Regions from separate parts of the Homo sapiens genome. Here region 2 is linked to region 1. The links come from fine-mapping of genetic effects on gene expression. A gene starts in region 1. The other region holds a variant in brackets. All regions are shown on one strand. Distances are between the middles of the regions.

Region 1 (2,900 bases):
ACTAAAAATACAAAAGTTAGCTGGGCGTGGTGGCGCACACCTGTAATCCCAGCTACTCAGGAGGCTGAGGCAGGAGAATGACTTGAACCTGGGAGGCGGAGGTTGCAGTGAGCCGAGATCGCACCACTGCACTCCAGCCTGGGCAACAGAAGGAGACCACGTCTCAGAAAGAAAGAAAAAAAAAAAGTAGCCTAAGGGAATTTGTGGATTTTCTCCACAAATTTCTACAGAGAAAGGAGTTGATTTCCCAAGCAGATATCTCGAAAGACTCGCTCTCATCTGCCATACTTTTGCTCCATCACCATCTGTCATCCTGTTAACTAAATGGCAACCCATTATATCACCTTTCCATACTGTGAAGAACCCCAGGGCTCATACGGCCACCCTCATTGTACAGACAGGGAGGAACAGAGGGAAGGAGGCTTGCTCAGTATCACACAGCCAGTGATTGGCTGGGCCAGGGCTGAAAGCCAGACCTGCCTCTACAGCCTAGGAAGGCTGGTTAGGACCAAGGCCAGGGAAAGCCACTTGCGCCCAGCGCTGGCATCTCCTGAGTCCAGATCTTGGAGGACAGATCCTAGAAGGGACCTAGCCTTACTCATCTGAAGTGGACAATCCGGATGAAGCAGGACTTCTGAATCCTGTTCAACAGCTGTTCTCTAAGAGCCTCCTGTGAGGCAGAAGCAATGCTGAGATAAACACGGCCCCTGGCAGCCAGGGGTGAGGACCCGGTGGGAAACAGGTCTATGGCTGAACTCTTGTCCCCGGCCCACTACAGGAAGGGCTGCAGCGAGGAAAACACCAGGTTGGGCGCTCCCTCCCGGGGGGAATCACAGATGGGCTCCAGCCCAGGAGCTGAGCCTAGAGGGATGGGATTTTCAGGCTGAGAGTTGGGGTGGTGAAGGCCCGGCAAGGAAACCTAGGGGAAGGGACCTGTGCACCAGCTTCTGGACAGCTCTAGTGTAGGGCGGAGGTAAGGGCTAGGGACCCACTCCCAGGGGCCCGAAGGCAGGACTGGAGTGTGTCCTTTCACTCTGAGGACAATGGTGAGGAAGGTGTTAGGGAGCGACAGGAGGAGAGCTGCGCTGCAGAAAGTTCATCCCGACAGCCACAGTAGAGAGGATGGGGTGCCCCAGGAGAAAGGGAGCCAGACCGAGCCTAGCACAGGGGGAGCCCGGCACGGCGCGGGCGCTCAGGAGAGAAGGAACAACAAATGGATGAGGGGGATGCTCAGGGCTGTCCTCGGGACAGCCGAGCGGGGCAAACTGCTTCGCAGCGAGAGCTGTTGTCACACTTTGGTGACTTTTCCAACTCTAAGTCTGGCCTCCTGAAACAAAGCAGAAGCCACGCCTTGGCGGGCCGCGGCGCGCAGCCCCTCAGGGTCGGGAAGCCCAACTTGGCGCGATCCCCGGCTCTCCGGCGGGGGCCTCCCTCGGGCTCGCCTTCCCCCCGGGTTCCCCGGAAACCGCGCCGGGGCGCTCCGCCCGCGCGCCCTCCACCCGCACCCCGGGCTCCCGCACTCCCCAGGACCTGGCTTGCGGCGGACGAGGGAGACGGCGAGGTCCGGGAGCGCGGGGTTCCGAACCATTCCGCAGCGGGCGAGCCCGCGGGCTCACCTGACTTGCCCATGGCCGGCTCCGCGCGCTCCTCGCTCCCCGCGGCTGCGCTGCACTGCGCTCGCCCGGCCCAGCGCCGCCCCAGAGCCCAGGACCGGGCTGATGCCGCGGCCCCTCCTCCGGCGCCGCCCGGCCCCCGCCTTATAAGGAGCGACAGCTGAGGGCGGAGGCGCCCGGGGCCACCCCGTGGGCCTCCCGGAGAGCTCACCCCTGGGAAGCAGCTCCGCGACTGCCGAGGGCTCCCCGGATGCGGCCGCGGGGCTCAAGCCTCCCGGACCCCACACCGAGCTGTCCCTTCCCGGGGCGCGTGGGGAAGCCCGCGCCTGCTGGGCCCCGGGTGGCTGCTCTGCGCCGACGCGCGGCGAGGACAGAGGGGCGCGCGGTCGCGGCACGAGGGGCGTTCCGGCCGGCGCCACCAGGGGACGGCCTCTCCCTGCCGCGGCCTGACACGACACACGCAGCCCCGGGGTGTGCCCCCATCTCCGGTGACTCTGGGCTCCGGAGGGCGGCTGGTCCGGGGAGGGGGATGCTCCTCTCCTAGGACACGCCCTCTAATGCCAGTCGGGGTGGAAGCGCCGCCGCCTCTGACCCGTCCACTCGCCCCTCATTGCCTCCCAGACCAAGCCAATTCCCACCCCTGCAGTCTGGCCCCAGACCTGTCTCCCCAACGCCCCACCTTTTCCCCATACTCCAGTCAAACTAGATGTCTTGTCATTCCCCAAACATGTTCTGGGATTTCCCACCTCCCTGCCTTTCCTCAGGCGGTCCCTCCTCCGGGAGTGCTGGCCCTGGAGCCACCATTCCAGTGCTGCCCATCCCTCGGGGTCGGCCGGTCTTTCCAACTGCCAGGTGCCCTGACCCTGGGAGCAGCACACACCAGGTACTGGGGAGATGTGGTCCCACCCATGGCCCCTGCCCCGTGGGAGAAGTGCACTTACTTGACCGCACAGCCCTAGTCACCTGTGCCAGACTTCCCGCAAGCGCTCCTTTCTGGGGAAGGGGCTCAGTACACCCCAAATGAAGGAAGCGAATTTTAAGGCTTTTCAATGAATGGGCACTGAAGTGAGCTGACCCACTGATGATAAGGCTAGAATTTGTAATACCAACGGCTTACGAATGTCCCGCAGGGCGATGGCTGGGCACTGTGCTCTCTATTCCTTTCCCCATGTCAGGCAAATACACCTACTGTATTTTAGTACCGTCATGAGTAATGACATTTCAGTCAATGCCAGACCACATATACTGTGGTAGTCCCAAGAGATTATGATACCATATTTTTACTAT
Region 2 (2,900 bases), 27 kb before region 1:
TGAATGATGAGGCCTCTTGGTGCTGATGCCAGACACCTTCTGGCTCCCATGGACATGCAGGCTGGCAGATCTCGCCTCCTGGGACATCTTCACCCGGGAGCAGGGGGTGGGTGGGTCAGGCCCTGCTGCTTCACACCTCCTTTGTCCTCTCCCCTGCCCTCCCACCTGCAAGCTTCAGCCTTGGGAGCATTTCAGTGGAGGAGGTGGCCATGCCTGTTTGTTTTTGTTTCAGCTCCCAGAGCACCAAGGCAGGAATGAGCTCTCTCATCAGACACTTCCAGCATTAAGTTGGGTCTGGAGGTGTCATGGGGACCTGAGAGAACTGATAGACCTAACTCCATGTGACAGACCTCGTACAGGTGGATAAATTGAAGCCCAGGGAGAGGAAGAGGCTTGCACCAGAGAGCTGTCTTCTTCCTCTGCCCTCTGGCTACAAAGGAGAGCCGCGGTTTGGTTTGTCCTTGTTCTTTTTGGATTGTGAGGCTTGCCATCTTCAAGAAATCCTTAAAAGTGAGATTAGTGCCCACCTGCTCAGCCAGCTTTGCTGTCTGGCATTTCTTTAGCCCAGGAAAGCTCCCCGGTCCAGCTTTTTCCTCAATCCAGCCAACTGTGGAAACAAACTCCAGCCCATAGAGGCTGGCTGCATGCTGGCTTCCACCACCTGGTTGTGTGTGTGTGTGTGTGTGTGTGTATGGGGGTGGGGGGGGTGACCCGAGGAGCCACCAAGAAGTTCATTGGCTGGCAGCTTGCCAGGTGGGGCCAGAAAAGGATCTCAGCAGGGTCTTTTCACCCACCGTCAGCTTCCTACCAGGCGCCACATTTTCTGTTCATGGTGTCTCCCGTTAGGAAGAGATGGTATGATTCTAATCTTTGGGGACTATCGGCTGGTATATCAGTTTGTTTGGAAGCCCTGAGGAAAATGAGGGGCATATTTTAAAGATATACAGATTTGGGCTGGAGCTAGAAAACTCAGGAACATTCAAGAATATTCTCAGCATCTCCTCCTCTTTTGTACCTCCAATAACTGGCTTCTTCGCTTCTGTGTATTTCCTATTCATAACTTGGCTTGCAAGTAGCTTTGGTTTGCCATGGCCCTAATTCCAATTTATGGCATCCTTATTTTTTTCAGTTCCACTGGTAAATTCTCTCCATAATTCTTAGCTGAAATTCCCAGTCCATGGCCAGCCTGGTGATTGGCTGCCGTTGGATCCAGTGTCCACTCTAGTCCAATCAGCTCTGTGCTGGTGGGTCAGATGGCTTAAAACTTGGCCACTTAAGCAACACAGTCCACGGGGAATGGGTTGCAGGTATTCTGGGGTTAATCGAGAGAGGGATTCAGAGTCACGGATTGTCTCAGCCATGGAGAAT[G/A]AAGTATGAATCACATTGGAGGAGGTTATTACACAAAGAAAAAGATTTTATTGTCTTCTTAGTCAATATCCCTGGTGAAATTAGAGGCATAGCTTGAGACTGGTGACAGTGCAACACAGACCTTCAGGAGCTGCTTTGAGGACTGGCCTGCCCAGATGCCTGCTGTTAAGCCAGCAGCCCCCTCACTCCGGCCCCTGCCATCTTGACAGATGGAGCTGCCATGGTTTCAGGGACACTCAGCAGGGCATCTGGGTTGGTCCCTCCCACATGGACCTTGTAAAGTTGCTATTCAGGGGAACCTGGTATCGTTTCAGGCAAAACACAGAACCATATTAGCACTTCTAAGCCCCCTGCCCCGGCCGCCTCCCCGGAACATTTGGGCTTGTCGCACATTCCAGGAGGGAGCAGGAGCACAGCTGCAGCCACAGCTGCCAGGAACAGGCCTGGGCTCCCGCCCTGTGTGGGGGGAGGGCAGAGGCTGAGGGCTTCCTCTGGGGGCCCTGAGTAAGCTCACCCTCACCCCACCTCTCTGACTTCATCCATCCAAGGCCGCTTGGCCAAGAGCCCAGGCAGGGTGAGGGGCTGTCTCCCAGACCAGGCCTGGGCTGCCTAGCAGAGGTGGGGGAGGGGGAGCTTCAGGCCTAGCCCAACTCTCCAGAAACCAGGGGTAGCCTGCTGAGCTCTGAAATGCCAGAAGTTTAAGAAAAGAGGGAAGGGGGCAAGAGGTGGTGGTGGTAGTGGTACTTTGCTATTTAAAGGTAGAAGAATGCAAGGAAGTAAAACTTTTTTTCTCCATTTGTTGTTTGGCGACCCCATTGGAGAATTCCAGGAGGCATGCAGGATGACATCATGTTTTACAACTGAGAAATCTCAGTAATTCTGTAAAATGGAGTCCCTGCCTGCTCCATGTTCCTGATGGAAGCTGCTTTGTATTTATGTGCTTAAAGCTGTATTTTATGTCACATTTAAATGAGGGTTTAATAATCTTAATTATCTACCAAAAGTAGATTACGACGCATGAAGATCACATAAAATGAACTTCACTTCTCAGCATCACAAACATTTGGAATACAAAAAGTCCAGGGATGGATATTAGAAGTAAGAAAAGTACAAAAGAGGTTTGCTTAGAAATAACAAAAAATTAAAAAAAAAAAACGGATCCCCCCTCCCCCCAATCCAAATAATCGTGGTCTAGGTAACCATCGGGGTAAATGCTTCCTTTGCTCACTCCTGTAATAAGAATGAGCGCACACAGAACTGTATGTCCAAGTGTGTGTGCCAGAGACGCTCACATGCATCACACACACAAGCACATACACCCACAGGGACAGACGCACAGCCAGGTTGTGGTGGTTCTAGGCACTTCATATCCACGTTCTTAAGTCTGCCACCTTCCCATTACATTTAACAAGTTACTTCTTCGGCGGCAGGACGTTTTCTTCGAAGAAGCCCTCATTGACAACATTCCCCGCTGGGAAGTATCTGGCCACCACAAAGGAGGACCCGTCACTTGCGGACGCCTTCCCCACGCC

What was found. PIP is the estimated chance that this variant, and not a neighbour inherited with it, causes the effect.
Region 2: its variant is fine-mapped to the expression of GLIPR2 in whole blood (TOPMed, PIP above 0.99).

What each region holds. Positions count from the first base shown.
Region 1 is chr9:36,135,508-36,138,407 of GRCh38, reverse strand. It overlaps GLIPR2 (GLI pathogenesis related 2), which reads right to left and starts at 1,675. Exons shown (of 5, transcript NM_022343.4): 1 at 1,617-1,675. The coding sequence starts at 1,629. RefSeq lists silencers at 1,374-1,423, 1,454-2,023.
Region 2 is chr9:36,162,403-36,165,302 of GRCh38, reverse strand. GLIPR2 (GLI pathogenesis related 2) reads right to left here. Exons shown (of 5, transcript NM_022343.4): 5 at 1,397-2,900. The coding sequence ends at 2,781. Among named protein-coding and RNA genes, the nearest start is that of CCIN, 5.5 kb to the left of the region's middle. RefSeq lists an enhancer at 2,391-2,900. The variant G/A (reference allele first, on the strand shown) is at 1,369.